Linked DNA regions of Homo sapiens: region 1 is linked to region 2. Evidence: fine-mapped QTL for protein levels in blood plasma. Region 2 holds a variant in brackets. A gene starts in the other region. All regions are shown on one strand. Distances are between the middles of the regions.

Region 1 (9,997 bases), 12 Mb after region 2:
GCAGTTCTGCTTTCCTCAGGATGCTCCACAAGTCTGATCCACTGTCCCCGCCTTCACTAACACCCAGCCTCCTTCTCTTCTTTATCTCCCAACCCTAGATGCTCAAGGTTGTTGGACACGTCCAGGCATGTTCTCAGAGGCAATGCAGGTCCAGTAAGAGCCTACAGGAAATGGCTCGCCAAGATCCTAGAGATGTCAGCCCAGATCCCTGATACCTCAGAAAGCGCTCTCCGGACACAAATGGATGGACTGACAGCCAGCCACAGGGCGCCTTCCCAATTGTTCTGATTTTGCGGTACCCTAGCAGGATCATCCTGACCTGATTCTGTACTTCTGCACCTAGATGCCGCAGGTCCCAGCCGCCTTGCCACACCAGGGGGTGTTCCCACACTCACCCGGTAACGGACGAGTAGATGGCTCTTGCTCCCAAATGGGACTCCGGTACAAATCCACCTCAGCGCAGAGCACACATCTCACCCAGCCCCCTCCCGTCACCCCCCGCCCTTCACCCCGCGCCCCTCAGCCCCCGCCCCTCAGACCCGCCCATCAGCCCCGCCCCTCAGCCCCCGCCCCTCAGCCCCCAGCCTGCATACACACTCACAGTATATGAAATTCCTTGTAATCAAAGTTCCGCTTGACTCATTTCACATCCACGTGTAGCAACAACAGCCCAAACCCTCCTTTCACGGTAAGCTTACCTCTTCCGCCCCCGTGAAGTTCCTAGAGCAGCTATTGGACTGTTTGAGTGCCTAGGCGTGGCTACGAAAAGAAACTGCCTTTGAGAGGAACAATGTGAGGCTGAAGAACAGTGACCCAGCCACTGGTATGGCAGGAGCTGCAAATCTCCTGGGACTGAAGCGGGGGCCAGAGAGTAGAGGGCCAGGGAGTGGGGTCCAGAGAAAGCATCAAGTTGTCTCTTTCACAGCTGAATGCAGCTCAGCTCATCAAAGTTTATTCATGACTTAGCAGGCTTGGAGTTTGACAGGGAAAATTATTGTTGGAAAAGCCAAAATTTTCAGACACATGGAGAAGCCGCTTTCCAGCTCTGCATCTGCCTCAAAAAAATACTCCTCCATTCAGAAGGGTAGATAGGATTGTGACAGGAGGAAGAGAGCAGACATGAAGCAGGGAAAAGACCACTAAAAATAAAGGAAAATTGGATTCGGCACTCAGCTTTGATCATCCATCTTCTCTGGGCCCCTGAGTGTCTGTACAAGGAGGGGGTTGAGCTACGTAGTCTCTAAGGGCACTTCAAACAATGACACTTTGGGAGTTTATTAATCCATGATCTCAGAGGCAGCGGTGGATAAATCCCGAAACGTTACTAGTCCCTGACCTTGAAGAGTTTGCAGAGCTGGGAAGATAAAGTAGACCGGACAGAGACAGAGAATTAAGGGCCAAACTATGAGGTGCAGACTGGAAGGGTTTGGGGGCCAGTAGGAAGAAGGAGTAAAAAAGAGTCTGACAAGGAAAGCAAATGCTTTTCAATAGATTAGGAGCTTTTAAAAGAGGTCAAAGAGGAAATAGCCTAATGGGTAGAGGAAAAGAAAAGCTTGAGCCAAGGTATGGGGGAGAGGACCAAGAAATGAGCCATTATCAGTCTCTGAGGGACCCCTCCTGTACTGGGCAGAGGCTATATGCCAGCTCAGGGTGGAGTCTCAGTAAAGCAGCTGAAAAGCCTTTGGTGGGAAAGGGCTGAATAGGCCCTAAGCTGAAGTAGAAAAAGTCCTAAATGAACTTCATATCTGTCCCCTAGCTAGAGTTAAGACCAGAATAGGCTACTGTGGGCTCAGGCCTAGTAGAAGGGAAAACTGCCAGAATTGGAATCCTAGGTCTGCCCCTTACTAGCTTTGTGACCTAAGGCAAGTTACTTAACCACTCTGTGGCTCAGGATTCTCTTCTGTAAAGTGGGGAAAATAACAATCCCTTACTCATAGGATTGTTTTAGGTATTATATGAGTTAATATACAAAATAGTGTTCATATGCGTAAGGAGCTTAGAATGATTTCTGGGACGTAGTGGTATAGAAGTGTTTATTAAATATAAATAAATACATGAATGCAATTTAGGGACCTCTGAAATCATCTGTGAGATTCAAATGAAAATAGCTACCCTGGGTACCTCCTAATTCTGTTCTGTCCTTTCCTAGAAAACAGGACCTCTTCTTTTTCTCCATCCTTTCCTACCCAGAGAAGCTGAATTACAGACAGTTTTGAAACTTTAGTGTAAAGAACCCTAGCTTGGAATTTAGATGTCTTGACAAAACTAAGTGTAACATCATGTAAATCTCTTCCTCTCTCTTAGTTTTCCTTTCTGCATCTGTATCCTGAAGAGACTGTTGGACTGGATGACCTTGAAACGCTAGAGCCGTGCTTCTCTCATATTAATGTGCACACAAATCACCTAAGGATCTTGTTAAAACACAGATTCTGAGTTAGCAGCTGTGGTGTGGGACTAAGACTCTGATTTTCTAACTGCTTCCAGGTGATATTGATGGTGCTGGGCCACAGACCATAGTTTTAGTAGCAAAGGTTTAGAAGGTGGACAAGAATAACATTTACTGAGCACCTATAAATCATGCATATGTGTCCCTTTATACCTTACAACCATTCTATGAGGTTGAGGTTACCATCCTCATTTTGTAGATGAAGAGGCTCCTTGTACTCTGTGATTCTGCCTGGAAGTACAGGAGGAAACTTGAGATAGAGGTACCAGGGATATGTCAGAGTCCACAAGCTATTGTGGAAAGTGATTATAAGCAGCAAATATGAAACCACTGTCCTCCACCATAACTTGTCCAATAATACTATAACAGTTAGCTGGCCCTCACTAAGCACTTGCCAGGCACTGCTCAAATTTTTTTCATGAATTAATTCATTTTATCTTCATAATCTATGAAGCCACAATCATTAGAATTATCCTCCCCTCTCCTTTTGCTCACACCTCACATTCAACCCATCAGCACATCCTATCAGCTCTGCCTCCTGCCTCAGAGATAAACTCTGAATTTCACCAACTTCTTAGCACCTTCACTGCAACCACTCTGGTGCAAGCCACGATTACTTTTCACCTGAATTATTGCCATATCCTCCAATAGCTCTCCTTGCTCTCATGCTTACCCCACTCCAGTCAATTCTCAGCAGAGCAACCAGAATGATCCTTTTAAAAGTACATCAGTCTAAGTCTGTCCAAGCAATTCTACTGGTTGGCTTCTTATTCAGCAGAAAACCCAAAATCCTTAACTATGGTCTATAATAGTCTACAATCTATCCCACGCCATCCCATCCTCACTAACCTGCCCCTCTATCTCTGATCTCACCTCTTACCACTCGCCTTGACCACCATACCCAACCCCAACTGGCGGCCTTGATATTTTTTCCAACACTCAAAGCATGCTCAAGACTCTGGTCTTTGCACTTGCTGCTCCTTCAGCCTAGCCAATTCTTCCCCCAGATATCAGCATGGCTCCTTTTCTCACTTCCTCCATATCCCTGCTTAAATGTCACTTTATCAAAGTGGACTTTCTTGAATACCCTAGCTAGTACAAGCTAATGGGATTGCCTAGGCCTTTTGAAATCCACTGGGTAGGTGAGCTTTTTCTCAACATAGCCCCAGGACCCCCGGTGCAGTGTGGTGGTGAGTAGGGTTAAGGCTCTCAACTCTGCTCTCTGTGGGGGAGCCACTCTAGCTCCATGTGCTTGTGCAGCAGAACTAAGTTTGGATCAGCTAATTTCTTGGGGGCTTTCCACAGCCCCTCCTTTTATGATAAACAGGAGTCACTTTGTGAACCCAAACTGAGAACTATCAGTACAGAGTTTCTCTACCTACATTCTACTGCTGGAACCAGCCTAACCTGACAGCAGGATAGGCAGGACCAGCCTCCACTCTGCTTATCTCTGGGACCAGACAGATTCTGGGGCTCAGTGAGATTCAGGGCTCTCTGATGCCACCCCTCAGCTCTCTCTCAGAGGTTACTTAGGGTCACTCAGGGGAATACTGGCCTTGGCTGTGTCTCAGAGAATCCTGGGTAGCCTCTAATTCTAGTGTCCAACAATGGCAGGACCACCTTTCATGAAGGAGCTTCATGGTTATCCAGGCAGAATGGGGCCCTTATAGCTCCTCTCAAGACTGGGACCAGGGGGCAGGAAAAGAAGCTGAAAGACTAAGGGGATGCTGAGGCCTGTGGGGCAACCCCTGTAAACTCAAACATTGCTAAGGATGTCCCTGAACACAATATCAGCTTCTTGTTCTCTTTAGCCTGTGAGATGTGTGTAGATAAACTTGGCCATAAATGTTTGCTGCAGTGGTGTATACAGGCTTAGGTCTTCTGAATTAGAAAGCTGGGGTATAAGAGTTACTTCTAGCCATGGGAATTTTCAAACTTCAGCTAGATTCTAGCACAGTCCAATAGTGTTATCTCTCATTTTAAATAATCTTCTATTCCACTTGCCCAAGATGGCTTTTAAAACTCACTCTTCTTAAGTCAAGTGCTCAACACAGCTCCCAAACCCCTAGCAGATGACTTCACCTCCAGTTTCACCGAGAATGTAAAAGGGCACGAAACTTGAAGTCTAAACAACTTCTGACATCTCCACATTCAAGTTCATCCTGTTTCTTACCTCAGAGTTTCCTCCTGTCCCTCCTGTCTCCATCTGTGTTTACTCCTGTCTATTCCATTTTGCTTTATTTGTATCTTCATGGTCTTTCTTCCTCTGGCTCTTTCTCCTAAATTGTCTTTCCATTCTGAACTAAGATTAATTCTTTTCATATCCTCACCTCCACCTCTTCATTTCCAAACTCACTACATTTTGCTCTTCTCAAGGTCACCCATGATTTTCATACTATCAAACCCATGGATTCTTCTGTTTTCTTATTTGAATTATCTAAAACATCCAACATTGTCTGGATTCTTTTCTTTCTGACTCTCTTCCCTTGACTTTCATGGAACTAATGTCTTCTAGTTTCACTTATTTCTCTACAGCATTTTATGGATTCTCATTCTCCACTTGCCCCTCAAGTGCAGGGATTTTACAGAGTTCCTCCCACCCTCCATTGTCCCTCTGGCCTGATTCTAACTTCTCTCACTGGAGTGTGAACCTATGTGGCAGGGACCTTATATACCATTTCACAAATTTCCACATGCAAAACTGTACCTAGAGTATTTTAAGCGCTCAATACATTTTTACATATTATATATATCAATATATCTGTTGAATAAGCCCAAGGAGAAAAATGTTCACATTTGAATGTATCCTTCTATAATGAGCTCCCAGGCCTCAGGTGTGCCACAATAAAAATAAGATGGCTAAAAAGGAATTGAAACCCACACCCAAAATAATAATAATAGCCAACACTTGATCAATGCTTGATGAACTCTATATGTCAGGCCCTATGCCAAATGTTCTGTATGCAATAGCTCATTTAATCATCACAATAATCCTATGAGGCAAAAACCATGACATCACTCCTATTTTATAGATGACAAAATTGAGGCACAGAAACGATAGGTGACTTATCTATGCCATCTATCAGTGCCACAACCAATAAGTGGCAATTGACCCAGGATTCTCAAGAATAGCTGATGCCTTAATTATTCACTGTCACACTCAAATGTACAATCCTTGCTTTCCCTTCCAATCAGAGGCTCCTTCCATCCTCTCTGAAGAGCTATTCTAAACCTCTACCTTTAGAAGTAAAGGTTAAGTTCCTACTTTAGCACTGAATTCTTAGCCCAGAAACATTGACTCTTTTCTTCTTCATCAATAAAACAGATTCTATTAGGCATTTAGTGCCTATAACTTCTTCCCTAATTCCTATAAGGTTCTCTCTGTCTTCATTCATCTTGGCCTTTCCTCTTGAAGAAGAGGAGAGAATGCCTCCCCTGATATTTATGAATCTTTCTCCATCAATTACCCCCACTCTCTATGGCATCATTATTTACCTGTCTTCTGTGCCTACCCCTTTAACTCGTAAACATATTTGAATTCCTCCCACTACAAAATAAAATCAACCCTTCTACCACATTTCCTCTTTCTCAAACAACAGCCTCGTCTCATTTTTTTTCTTAGCCAAATTTCTGGATAGAGTTTTCTCTAATAACTGTTTCCATGACTTTAATTTCCATTAGCTCCCCAACCTACTATAATCTGGCTTCTAGCCCCATTTGTTCTCCCTAAAGCTACAGGGGACCACTTAACTGCCAAATTTTAGGAAACATTTTCTCTCATCTTTTTTTTTCTTTTTTTTATTATACTTTAAGTTTCAGGGTACATGTGCACAACATGCAGGTTTGTTACATATGTATACATGTGCCATGTTGGTGTGCTGCACCCATTAACTCATCATTTACATTAGGTGTATCTCCTAATGCTATCCCTCCCTCCTTCCCCCACCCCACAACAGGCCCCGGGTGTGATGTTCCCCTTCCCGTGTCCAAGTGTTCTCATTGTTCAATTCCCACCTATGAGTGAGAACACGTGGTGTTTGGTTTTTTGTCCTTGCGATAGTTTGCTAAGAATGATGGTTTCCAGCTTCATCCATGTCCCTACAAAGGACATGAACTCATCATTTTTTATGGCTGCATAGTATTCCATGGTGTATATGTGCCACATTTTCTTAATCCAGTCTATCATTGTTGGACATTTGGGTTGGTTCCAAGCCTTTGCTACTGTGAATAGTGCTGCAATAAACATACGTGTGCATGTGTCTTTATAGCAGCATGATTTATGCACCTTTGGGTATACATGCAGTAATGGGATGGCTGGGTCAAATGGTATTTCTGGTACTAGATCCCGGAGGAATAGCCACACTGACTTTCACAATGGTTGAACTACTTTACAGTCCCACCAACAGTGTAAAAGTGTCCCCATTTCTCCACATCCTCTCCAGCACCTGTTGTTTCCTAACTTTTTAGTGATCGCCCTTCTAACTGGTGTGAGATGGTATCTCATTGTGGTTTTGATTTGCATTTCTCTGATGGCCAGTGATGATGAGCATTTTTTCATGCCTCTGTTGGCTGCATAAATGTCTTCTTTTCAGAAATGTCTATTCATATCCTTCGCCCATTGTTGATGGGGTTGTCTGATTTTTCTTGTAAATTTGTTTGAGTTCATTGTAGATTCTGGATATTAGGCCTTTGTCAGATGAGTAGATTGCAAAAATTTTCTCCCATTCTGTAGGTTGCCTGTTCACTCTGATGGAAGTTGCTTTTGCTGTGCAGAAGCTCTTTAGTTTAATTATATCCCATTTGTCAAATTTGGCTTTTGTTGCCATTGCTTTTGGTGTTTTAGACATGAAGTCCTTGTCCATGCCTATGTCCTGAATGGTATTGCCTAGGTTTTCTTCTAGGGTTTTTATGGTTTTAGGTTTAACATTTAAGTCTTTAATCCGTCTTGAATTAATTTTTGTATAAGGTGTAAGGAAGAGGTCCAGTTTCAGCTTTCCACATATGGCTAGCCAGTTTTCCCAGCACCATTTATTAAACAGGGAATCCTTTCCCCATTTCTTGTTTTTATCAGGTTTGTCAAAGATCAGATAATTATAGATGTGTCGTATTATTTCTGAGGGCTCTGTTCTATTCCATTGGTCTATATCTCTGTTTTGGTACCAGTACCATGCTGTTTTGGTTACTGTAGCCTTGTAGTACAGTTTGAAGTCAGGTAGCATGATGCCTGCAGCTTTCTTCTTTGGCTTAGGATTGACTTGGCAATGTGGGCTCTTTTTTGGTTCCATATGAACTTTAAAGTAGTTTTTTCCAATTCTGTGAAGAAAGTCATTGGTAGCTTGATGGGGATGGCATTGAATCTATGAATTACCTTGGGCAGTATGGCCATTTTCATGATATTGATTCTTTCTATCCATGAGCATGGAATGTTCTTCCATGTGTTTGTATCCTCTTTTATTTCGTTGAGCAGTGGTTTGTAGTTCTCCTTGAAGAGGTCCTTCACATCCCTTGTAAGTTGGATTCCTAGGTATTTTATTCTCTTTGAAGCAATTGTGAATGGGAGTTCACTCATGATTTGGCTCTCTGTTTGTCTGTTATTGGTGTATAAGAATGCTTGTGATTTTTGCACATTGATTTTGTATCCTGAGACTTTGCTGAAGTTGCTTATCAGCTTAAGGAGATTTTGGGCTGAGACAATGGGGTTTTCTAGATATACAATCATGTCATCTGCAAACAGGGACAATTTGACTTCCTCTTTTCCTAATTGAATACCCTTTATTTCCTTCTCCTGCCTAATTGCCCTGGCCAGAACTTCCAACACTATGTTGAATAGGAGTGGTGAGAGAGGGTATCCCTGTCTTGTGCTGATTTTCAAAGGGAATGCTTCCAGTTTTTGCCTATTCAGTATGATATTGGCTGTGGGTTTGTCATAAATAGCTCTTATTATTTTGAGATACATCCCATCAATACCTAATTTATTGAGAGTTTTTAGCATGAAGGGGTGTTGAATTTTGTCAAAGGCCTTTTCTGCATCTATTGAGATAATCATGTGGCTTTTGTCGTTGGTTCTATTTATATGCTGGATTATGTTTATTGATTTGCATATGTTGAACCAGCCTTGCATCCCAGGGATGAAGCCCACTTGACCATGGTGGATAAGCTTTTTGATGTGTTGTTGGATTTGGTTTGCCAGTATTTTATTGAGGATTTTTGCATCAATGTTCATCAAGGAAATTGGTCTAAAATTCTCTTTTTTGGTTTTGTCTCTGACAGGCTTTGGTATCAGGATGATGCTGGCCTCATAAAGTGAGTTAGGGAGGATTCCCTCTTTTTCTATTCATTGGAATAGTTTCAGAAGGAATGGTACCAGCTCCTCTTTGTACCTCTGGTAGAATTCGGCTGTAAATCCATCTGGTCCTGGACTTTTTTTGGTTGGTAAGCTATCAATTATTGCCTCAATTAAGAACCTGTTATTGGTCTATTCAGAGATTCAACTTCTTCCTTGTTTAGTGTTGGGAGGGTGTATGTGTTGAGGAATTTATGCATTTCTTCTAGATTTTATAGTTTATTTGCGTACAGGTATTTATAGTATGCTCTGATGGTAGTTTGTATTTCTGTGGGATCGGTGGTGATCTCCCTTTTATCACTTTTTATTACATCTGTTTGATTCTTCTCGTTTCTTCTTTTTTAGTCCTGCTAGCAGTCTATTAATTTTGTTGATCTTTTCAAAAAACCAGCTCCTGGATTCATTGGTTTCTTTGAAGCTTTTTTTGTGTCTCTATCTCCTTCAGTTCTGCTCTGATCTTAGTTATTTCTTGCCTTCTGCTAGCTTTTGAATGTGTTTCCTCTTGCTTCTCTAGTTCTTTTAATTGTGATGTTAGGGTGTCAATTTTAGATCTTTTCTGCTTTCTCTTGTGGGCATTTAGTGGTATAAATTTCCCTCTACAAACTGCTTTAAATGTGTCCCAGAGATTCTGGTACGTTGTGTCTTTGTTCTCGTTGGTTTCAAAGAACATCTTTATTTCTGCCTTCATTTCGTTATGTACCCAGTAGTCATTCAGGAGCAGGTTGTTCAGTTTCCATGTAGTTGAGCGCCTTTGAGTGTGTTTCTTAATCCTGAGTTCTAGTTTGATTGCACTGTGGTCTGAGAGACAGTTGGTTATAATTTCTGTTCTTTTACATTTGCTGAGGAGTGCTTTACTTCCAACTATGCCGTCAATTTTGGAATAAGTGCGGTGTGGTGCTGAGAAGAATGTATATTCTGTTGATTTGGGTTGCAGAATTCTGTAGATGTCTATGAGGTCCACTTGGTGCAGAGCTGAGTTCAATTCCTGGATATCCTTGTTAACTTTCTGTCTCGTTGGTCTGTCTTTTGTTTAAATTTGGGTGTTAAAGTCTCCCATTATTATTGTGTAGGAGTCTAAGTCTCTTTGTAGGTCTCTAAGGGCTTGCTTTATGAATCTGGGTGCTCCTGTATTGGATGCATATATATTTAAGATAGTTAGCTCTTCTTGTTGAATTTATCCCTTTACCATTGTGTAATGGCCTTCTTTG
Region 2 (10,123 bases):
GCCGTAGGGTAAACTCCCCCAGCTCCCTTACATGGTCCCTTGTGCCCTCGGACACGTCCCTGCCCCTCTCTGGCCTCATATCCAAAGAGCATTGGCTCACCCGGCCTGCTCTCTGGGGGCCGCACTTTAGATAGTGGGTGGGGAGCACCCGGACCGTGGCCTGGTACATGGGGGGTGCTGCGCAAGTGAGAGTTACCTCGACGGGGAGGTGCTTTGTAAACTGGGCCTGGTGCTCTGTGATGAACATGAAGGTGGTGCCGGTTGTGTGCATGCACACACAGGGTTGTGTGCAGGGAGGCATGCCCTGTGGAGACGGCCACGTGTCTAGCTGGGCTCCAAGCTGTGTTGGCAAGGCCAGGCTGGCTCCAGCCAAGATGGCCCTGGCTGCAGGGGCTGCCATGGGCCAGGGTCACACTTCCTGCGGCCTCTGACTCTGCTCTGAGGAGTGGGCCATGGGGGAGTAACAGGTCAGAGTCTACCTTGAGGGGAGGCTGTCAGTCTAGAGATAACAGAAAGGGAGCCACGAGGACGCAGCCATCCATCAGGGCAGCGACTTGCCTGGGGCACCCCCACCTCTCCAATGGGGGAGCTGAGGGCAGGCGGGTAGGCCAGCTTTCAGTCCTGGCTCTGTCTCATCCTAGCTGCCTGCCCTGGGGCCACTCTGCTTCCTCATCCATAAACCAGTGGCAGGAATGCCCATCCCATAGACTCGTGGTGAAGATGAAATGAGCCACATATGCGGAAGCAGATGGCACCATGATTGTGCATAGGTGTCCAATAAATGACAATTGTGACAACAACTGTCCTTCCTGCACTAATTTTCCCACTTGTCCCACCCCCAACCAGTCCTGCCAGAAGGAACAATACCTGTGCTAAGAAGCCCAGGTGCAGGGGTAAATGCTGTGGAAATGGATCCCTTTATTCAGCCAGCACCCAGAATGTGCAGATCACTGTCCTGGGCTGGGGAGAAGAGACTCGGGCCAGGAAAGCCACACATGGGCCAGAACTGGGAGAACTGAAGCCCAGGGCACAGCAACCTGCCTGGGAGGGAGGAGAAGATGAAGAGGGCTTCCTGGACCACACCATGGAGCCAGTGTTGGGCCTTGGAAGGGAGTGGGGAGGGCAAGAAGGACACAGTCATGGGTGGGGACAGGGCTGCCAGTGTGACACCTATGTTGGGGTGAGGAGGGGAGAAGAGTGGTTCAAGGGTGGGTGTCTCAGGGCAGCGGTCTGTGTGACCAGTGATGGTCACCTGCTGACAGAGGGGACAGAGGAGGGCCGTCTAGGTGGGGGAGGTGCACCAGCAAAGGCATGGAGTCATGAGAAAGATGAGGGGACCAGTCAGGCAGAGTCAAGGGGGTCACTGTCATGAAGCAGCTGGCTTTGGGTAGGGCTTGGGTGCCGGGGCCAAGCTCTTAGACCTGCAGAGCAGGTGGCATTGGGAGTCATTTGGTGGCTGGGGCAAGATTGAGTGGCTGACGGGTGGAAGAGCAAGAGTGACAGAATCTGTCTCCCACCTCAGGACCCAGGCAGTGGCTACCCCTACACCCCTAGCCCACCTGGGACAGCCCAGCCAACCCATCTGTGTGTGTGGCCCTCCCTACCTGCTGGCCGCAAGCTGAGAGTCAAGAGTCGCCTCCAATGTGGCCTCTGAGGTTGAGTTTGCTCCCACCACGCTGGCATAGGTAGATAGAGTGGGGCGTGATGGGATATTCATGAGGTAGTATTCTGTGCGGCTGGATGTGCTCTTGCACTCAGTTACCATGTAGCGTGTGCCCACGATGAAGATCTTGAGGTGGGACAGGTGGCTGGGCCAGACCCAAGCAGGAGCAAGGGCTGCTCAGGGGCTAATGGTGGGGGCTCTCTTCATTACTCCCCACTTGCCCTTCTAAATCCACTCCCCATCTATGCCTGTCCCGCTCTGTGCTTCAGGAGACTGACCGTTGCTGATTGTATCATCTGGGCTCCTTGTCCTGCAAGTGAGAGACAATGGCACCCGATGCGCGGAGGTCACAACGAGAGCTTTAGGGTATTTATCCCTATGCCTCCCTATCTGCTGGGTTGTGCTTTAGCTGTCACGAGGCTCCCCTAACTCGGGCCATCAGTTCCCATGGGCCGCTCTTCTTCCGTGGCTGTGACTCTTGTCACTTTCTTTTAACTGCCATTGCACCTTGACCCTTCAGGGCTTGAGGTGGTAATGGCTTTTGGCAGATTCAGTTCCCCCATCTCTGCCCATCCCTTGTGGGTCCTCTAATGCCACCTACCTCTGTAAATTATGTCCTCATGAGTTTACCATCAGTTTGCCCACGGAGTTTGCCATGTGTTTTGGGACAGCATTCTGCCTGACACAGAGAGTGAATGTGAGTGTAAAAAGGAATGAATAAATGTGAGCGAAGGAAAGAGTGGGTGAAAGTAAATGCATGAATGAATGAGAAAACAAGTGTGAATGAGGAATTTTTGTGTGAAACTTTCCTTGTTTATTTTGCTGAGGTTGTAGAATCCACACTGGCCAAATCGTGCTTTTCCCTGGATCCCCACTGAGAATGGCAGGTCAGTGAGTGCAGCAAGTGCAGGCTCTTTGGAGGACACCGTCTCACACCCTGGAGGGAAGAGGAGCATCCTGCCTCACAGACTTGCTTCAAATCTCACCTAGAGGTTTTGGAAGGCCAGACTGGCTACCTCAGAATCACAACATGGGCTCCTAGAAATGCAGATTCCTGGAGCCCAGCCTTCAGGGTCTGGTTCAGTAGCATGGGGGTGGGGCCCAGGAAGCTGTGTCATCAACCAGTCTCAGGGGACATTGACATCCAGCCAGGTTGGAGAATCACGGAGCTGGCCTGCTCACCTCATCTGAGAGATGAGAGGACAGGTGCAGAGAAATCCCTGGCTCATGTGGCAGCCCCTCCAAAGCTGTTTAGCATTGGAGGTCCCAACTCATTCGACTCTGTTGACCCAGAGAGGCACTGGGGTGGACAGTGGATGTAACAGACACAGACAGACACACAGACTGGATCCAAATCCCAGTGCTGACACTCCCCTAATGTGGGACGATCAAAGCCAGTCACTCCATTGCTCGACTTCACTTTTCCCATCTGTAAAATGGACGAGATGCCATCTACAGCTCAGGACCACTGTGAGACTTTGAGAGAATTCCTCCCTCCCAACTACATGGTGCAGAGAAGATTGCACGATCATTCTACTCATTAGCATTAGGTGGCACTCACTGAGATGCAGGTATGGCTCCAAACGCTTTACATGAATGGCCTCATTTATTTCCCACAAGCACTGCCTATGAAGTAGGAGCTGTGGTCATGCCTGTGCTGTAGATGAGGAGCCAGAGGCTTAGAGAGAATGAGTCTCTTGTCCAGGGACACACAGCAGCAGCGGGGACCTGGGCCCACAGGCCATCTGAGTCCCTGCAGCCTGCACTCTTCAGCCCTAAGCTAAAAATGGCAGGTCCCTCCCCCATTCTCCTTAAAGGTTAAAACAGAGGGTAGGACCAATCCTGTGGGGGAGAAAACAGAACAAAGAGCTCTGAGAGGAAGGAAGCCAAGGGAATGTATGTGAGCAGGCGCCTCAGAGAGTATGGGGCTCAGTGTGTCCCTGAGCTTCCTGACAGCTGTGGCAGGAAGAAGGGGGAGCAGAATTCCCAAGTTTCCATTTTCTGGAAAAAAAGGAGGCACAGTGACATTTCTAAATGGACATTTGTCTTGGATTCCAGAGGAGTTGATCTTGTGGCCAGCTCAGCAAACATCCGGGACTAGAGAGTCATCTGTGATTTCATGAGACTCTAAAAGGCTTGTTCACACACATGATGCCCAGAGTCAGAAGGCAGAGAGGGAAGAAGAAATATGAAATCCGATCCAGAGGATAACCTTGCTAGGCTGCTGTTTCCACAGCAGTGGGGGGATGGGAGGAGACCTAGACCTTGTCTGTGTGTCTGTCTGTCTCCTGGACACACACTGACTGCACTGCCTCTCTGGGAGGAGACGCAGGCTGCTGGTGTACCTCCAGACTTGCCATGCCTCCAAAGACTGGGCCCCAGGTTGCATGGGCAATGAGGTAGGGTGAGGTTGCCAGTGAGCGTCACACTGCTAGGGCCTGGGAGCTGAGGGCCAAGCTGGGTCTGTCCGGCTGGGCTCAATGGAGGATGCAGAGAGGAGCTGGCTGTGGGACTGGGAGAGGAGCGTGGGGCAGGTGGAAGGGTGTTGTAGGCAGGAGTCACCGGAGGTTTGGGGAGGGGTTAGACTTCTCACCCTCCCCAGATAGCACCCCTTGTGCTGCCCTTTCTGTGGTTCTTCTGTCTTGTGAGCCCTCTGTACCACCCCATCCCAATCGTACCCACTCATACAGGTGAGGCTGATTTGCCCCCATCCACCAGGATCGAGAGGGCAGCCTGAGACATCTGGTCCCATCGTGCATCTCCTGCTATAGGACTCTCAACCCCAGCACACAAACCACCCCTCAGCAGCCCCACACCACACCACCTACTGCCCGACATTGCAAGACCAGTTGGCTCAGGCATCATGGCTGACTTCCCGGTTCAGTACGATGTGGTCATGGAGGACATCATTAGAGCCGTGCAGGTGAGGGGGCCTGGGGAAGAGGAGAGAGGATGGGCTCTGGAGTCAGACAGGCCTGAGCACACTGCTCGGGTCTCTCCAGCTGGTCACTCCAGTTTCCCTAGGGATAAGTGAGAGCTAGC[G/A]AACAAGGATAGGCTGATGTGAAAAGACACATGGCTTCAACCTTGGGAGGCACATCGAATCCCCCAAAGGGTTGGAGACCTGGAACTGTCTCCAGTGAATCAAGTGCCCAAAGGACCCATCCCTAACTGAATCAAGTCATAGCCTGCTCGAAAACAGTCCTTCTGCAAAGTAAACCCTTGGCCACTAATTGGGCACTCATGTTCATGGGCTCTCATGCATTCTATAGCTCCTATACTCTCCTGTGTTCTCTTGGGCTTCCTTGCTCTCTCTCGGCTTTTAACAATCCTTATTGCTTCAGTGGAGCCATCTGCCTAAACAGGGAGCCCTTCAATTCTGAGTTTCCACATTCATGAAGAAAGAGCAGAGGTCCCACACTCTCCCAGATGGGAAAGGACAGAGCACTGATCCCAGGGCCCTGGCTTGAGCACAAGGATGGCGGGGCAGCCTGAGACATCTGGTTCCACTCTGCCTCTCCCGCCACAGAACTCTCAACCCCAGCACACAAACCACCCTCCAGCTGCCCCAAACCACACCACACCACACCACACTTTTCTCCAAAACACCCGAGCCTGCCTCTCATCTGTGTGAGCATTTGCTCATGGTGGCCACTGCCCTGAGAATGACTTCTTCCTCCTTGCTCCACTGCTCAGCATCCTTGTGTTCCTGAAACACTGCCGAAACACCTCCTCCTTGATGACTCCAGTCCACCAACAATTCGTTTGTCTGCCCTGGACTAAAAGTGTCCCATGGTTAAACCTCTTCTCATGCATCATTCATTCATTCATTCACATGTTGAATGAATAAGTGGACTAGGCCAGTCTTGTACTCATTGACTCTGACAACTCAGAAGTGAGTCAGACACAGCCACTCATCTCCCTCTGCCATCACCCCATCCTGAAGCACCCAGATACACAGAGCCTTGACAGTCATCAAGTGTTCTAGGTGTTGTGTTTAAGTGTGTCATGGGTTCTGTCGTGGTGCCAGTGGAGGAGGGTTTCAGGGCCGTCATCCTAAAGGAGTTGGAATTTAAGTAAGCATGGGAAAAATGAATTGGATATACCTGCAAGTCGGTCGAGAAGGTGAAGGGAAAGGCATGCAGTGAGAAGGAACAGCATTGCAGAGGCACAGAGGTGTGGCTCAGTCTGTTGTGTAGGGGGAGTAAAAGTTATTCTCCTGCCAGGATAGGAGCCAAGGGTACCTTGCCAGCAGGTGGCAGCAGGGGCTTTAACCTGGTGTTATGTCTCGTGGGTGTGTTTAGTTCATGGAGGTATTCCTCTGCTGGTTCATTCTTTACCATCACCACAGCTGCCTGCAGTTGAAATACGGATGGATGGAGGCATGGGATTAAGCATTGACTAGTACAACCAGGAACTCCCAAGCACCGTGAGCCCTGACCCCCTCTGACACCCTGCCAGGAACACTCAGGTCATCTCCCACTTCCTATTTGAGTGTGCTCCTCTTTGAAAGCCCAGCACATCATCAGATCATCCACCCCGCTGGGGCTCACTGAGCACCTCATCTGTGTCATACCTGGTGTTGGCTGACGTTGGGAACCCCAAAGGGTATCACACACACCGCCTACCTATTGTCTATGGGCGAGACACAGAAACCCAATATTGGCACTAGGGTAGAATTGCCCTTTCCATGACACACAAGGTAGGATGGAAGCCATAATGAAGAGGAAAGGCAGTTCCAGAAGGTTCCCAGGGGGAGACCAAGGCTGACCTGTCTGTTAAGGAATTAATAAAAATGGGCCATAGGCGAGGGCCTGTGGGAGGGAAAGGCATTCCAGCAATGTAGTGGCTGCCTGAGAAAAGAAACAGGCAAAAACTTACCAAGTATGTGTAGGGAATTGCAAACAGCTTGGCGTTCTGGAGCAGAGATTTGAGATGAAAAACCCAAAGAGCCACATAGAAGGCTGGAGAGTCCTGCAGGGCAACACAAGGAATATGGTATTTGTCCTGTAGTTGAACAGGGAGCCATGAGATAAAATGACATGTGAGGTAATGTTTACAGGGTCTCAGCGGCTGCCTCTGAGCAGCATGGATGGGAGAGGCCGCAGTAGAAGAGGGAAACTGAGAAAAATGAGGCCTAAGCTTGGGCTTGGTCAGTTAGGGATGAAGAGGAGGGTGGCCTGGAGAAGCATCCAGCAGAGAAAAGCAATAAGAATTGGAAGTTGATTGGCTGCAGGGAATGGGGGCCACCTGAAGATTGAAGGCAACACTCAGATTTGTCTCCAGAGTGACCATGTGGATGATGGTGCCCCTGACTGCGAAGGCATAAAGGGCCAAGTAGGGGCAGGACAACGAATTCATTGTTTGGGCAGGATGCATTGGAGGCTTCTTGAAACATTCCGGGGCAGATGTCCAACTGTGAGTCTGCACCCACTGGTGAGGGGGCAATTGTGGGAGCCCTAGATGGGAGAAGAGATTCAGAGTGACTGGTAGGGCTTCTGTGGTGGAAACCAAGTGACAGAGGGAGGTCACCTAGGGAGCATGTGTGGAGCCAGAAGGGAAGATCCTTCAAGGCAGCAGCTAAGGTGGAGTGGCCCAATCCAGCAGCTATGGATCCCTTCAGCCACCCCATCAACTGCGCACAGCCTGCCCAGAGCCCCAGTCCCCAGCAGTTCACTCCATTGAGCTGCACCAGCATAATTATTTTCTTTGACCTGAGAAATACTGGGAAACACTGCGAAGGGAGTGGGCAGACAGAAGTGGTAGGAGAATAAGGAGAGTTCACTGTAGCAGATTGCAGGGAAAACGACTTTTTTTTTTTAAATTTTATTTTATTTTTTATTATACTTTAAGTTTTAGGGTACATGTGCACATTGTGCAGGTTAGTTACATATGTATACATGTGCCATGCTGGTGTGCTGCACCCACTAACTCATCATCTAGCATTAGGCATACCTCCCAATGCTATCCCTCTCCCCTCCCCCCACCCCACAACAGTCCCCAGAGTGTGATGTTCCCCTTCCTGTGTCCATGTGTTCTCATTGTTCAATTCCCACCTATGAGTGAGAATATGCGGTGTTTGGTTTTTTGTTCTTGCAATAGTTTACTGAGAATGATGATTTCCAATTTCATCCATGTCCCTACAAAGGACATGAACTCATCATTTTTTATGGCTGCATAGTATTCCATGGTGTATATGTGCCACATTTTCTTAATCCAGTCTATCATTGTTGGACATTCGGGTTGGTTCCAAGTCTTTGCTATTGTGAATAATGCCGCAATAAACATACGTGTGCATGTGTCTTTATAGCAGCATGATTTATAGTCCTTTGGGTATATACCCAGTAATGGGATGGCTGGGTCAAATGGTATTTCTAGTTCTAGATCCCTGAGGAATCGCCACACTGACTTCCACGATGGTTGAACTAGTTTCCAGTCCCACCAACAGTGTAAAAGTGTTCCTATTTCTCCACATCCTCTCCAGCACCTGTTGTTTCCTGACTTTTTAATGATTGCCATTCTAACTGGTGTGAGATGGTATCTCATTGTGGCTTTGATTTGCATTTCTCTGAAGGCCAGTGATGATGAGCATTTTTTCATGTGTTTTTTGGCTGCATAAATGTCTTCTTTTGAGAAGTGACTGTTCATGTCCTTCGCCCACTTTTTGATGGGGTTGTTTGTTTTTTTCTTGTAAATTTGTTTGAGTTCATTGCAGATTCTGGATATTAGCCCTTTGTCAGATGAGTAGGTTGCAAAAATTTTCTCCTATTTTGTAGGTTGCCTGTTCAGTCTGATGGTAGTTTCTTTTGCTGTGCAGAAGCTCTTTAGTTTAATTAGATCCCATTTGTCAATTTTGTCTTTTGTTGCCATTGCTTTTGGTGTTTTAGACATGAAGTCCTTGCCCATGCCTATGTCCTGAATGGTAATGCCTAGGTTTTCTTCTGGGGTTTTTATGGTTTTAGGTCTAACGTTTAAGTCTTTAATCCATCTTGAATTGATTTTTGTATAAGGTGTAAGGAAGGGATCCAGTTTCAGCTTTCTACATATGGCTAGCCAGTTTTCCCAGCACCATTTATTAAATAGGGAATCATTTCCCCATTGCTTGTTTTTCTCAGGTTTGTCAAAGATCAGATAGTTGTAGATATGCGGCATTATTTCTGAGGGCTCTGTTCTGTTCCGTTGATCTATATCTCTGTTTTGGTACCAGTACCATGCTGTTTTGGTTACTGTAGCCTTGTAGTATAGTTTGAAGTCAGGTAGTGTGATGCCTCCAGCTTTGTTCTTTTGGCTTAGGATTGAATTGGCAATGCAGGCTCTTTTTTGGTTCCATATGAACTTTAAAGAGAAAGCAGGAAAGATCCAAAATTGACACCCTAACATCACAATTAAAAGAACTAGAAAAGCAAGAGCAAACACATTCCAAAGCTAGCAGAAGGCAAGAAATAACTAAAATCAGAGCAGAACTGAAGGAAATAGAGACACAAAAAACCCTTCAAAAAATTAATGAATCCAGGAGCTGGTTTTTTGAAAGGATGAACAAAATTGATAGACCGCTAGCAAGACTAATAAAGAAAAAAAGAGAGAAGAATCAAATAGACGCAATAAAAAATGATAAAGGGGATATCACCACCGATCCCACAGAAATACAAACTACCATCAGAGAATACTACAAACACCTCTATGCAAATAAACTAGAAAATCTAGAAGAAATGGATAAATTCCTCAACACATACACTCTCCCAGACTAAACCAGGAGGAAGTTGAATCTCTGAATAGACCAATAACAGGCTCTGATATTGTGGCAGTAATCAATAGCTTACCAACCAAAAAGAGTCCAGGACCAGATGGATTCACAGCCGAATTCTACCAGAGGTACAAGGAGGAACTGGTACCATTCCTTCTGAAACTATTCCAATCAATAGAAAAAGAGGGAATCCTCCCTAACTCATTTTATGAGGCCAGCATCATTCTGATACCAAAGCTGGGCAGAGACACAACCAAAAAAGAGAATTTTAGACCAATATCCTTGATGAACATTGATGCAAAAATCCTCAGTAAAATACTGGCAAAACGAATCCAGCAGCACATCAAAAAACTTATCCACCATGATCAAGTGGGCTTCATCCCTGGGATGCAAGGCTGGTTCAATATATGCAAATCAATAAATGTCATCCAGCATATAAACAGAACCAAAGACAAAAACCACATGATTATCTCAATAGATGCTGAAAAGGCCTTTGACAAAATTCAACAACACTTCATGCTAAAAACTCTCAATAAATTAGGTATTGATGGGACGTATTTCAAAATAATAAGAGCTATCTATGACAAACCCACAGCCAATATCATACTGAATGGGCAAAAACTGGAAGCATTCCCTTTGAAAACGGGCACAAGACAGGGATGCCCCCTCTCACCACTCCTATTCAACATAGTGTTGGAAGTTCTGGCCAGGGCAGTTAG

Which allele goes with the higher level. Positions count from the first base shown, and alleles are read on the strand shown. Strength reflects both the effect of a copy and how common the allele is.
In carriers of allele G in region 2, the plasma level of the protein whose gene starts at base 479 in region 1 tends to be higher than with A alone (weak association).

Evidence for each region. A credible set is the group of variants that fine-mapping cannot tell apart. PIP is the chance, under the fine-mapping model, that this variant and not a neighbour inherited with it causes the effect. Protein levels are from antibody-based Olink assays in UK Biobank. Linkage for the fine-mapping came from a reference panel and not from the study's own genotypes, which makes the PIPs less certain.
Region 1: EDA2R starts here. The variant in region 2 is the best candidate, but not a certain one, in a credible set for the plasma level of the EDA2R protein (UK Biobank, PIP 0.72).

The regions. Positions count from the first base shown.
Region 1 is chrX:66,638,600-66,648,596 of GRCh38, forward strand. EDA2R (ectodysplasin A2 receptor) reads right to left here and starts at 479. Exons shown (of 7, transcript NM_021783.5): 1 at 396-479. RefSeq lists an enhancer at 1-299.
Region 2 is chrX:54,820,327-54,830,449 of GRCh38, forward strand. No RefSeq gene overlaps it. Among named protein-coding and RNA genes, the nearest start is that of SNORA11, 11 kb to the left of the region's middle. The variant G/A (reference allele first, on the strand shown) is at 4,706.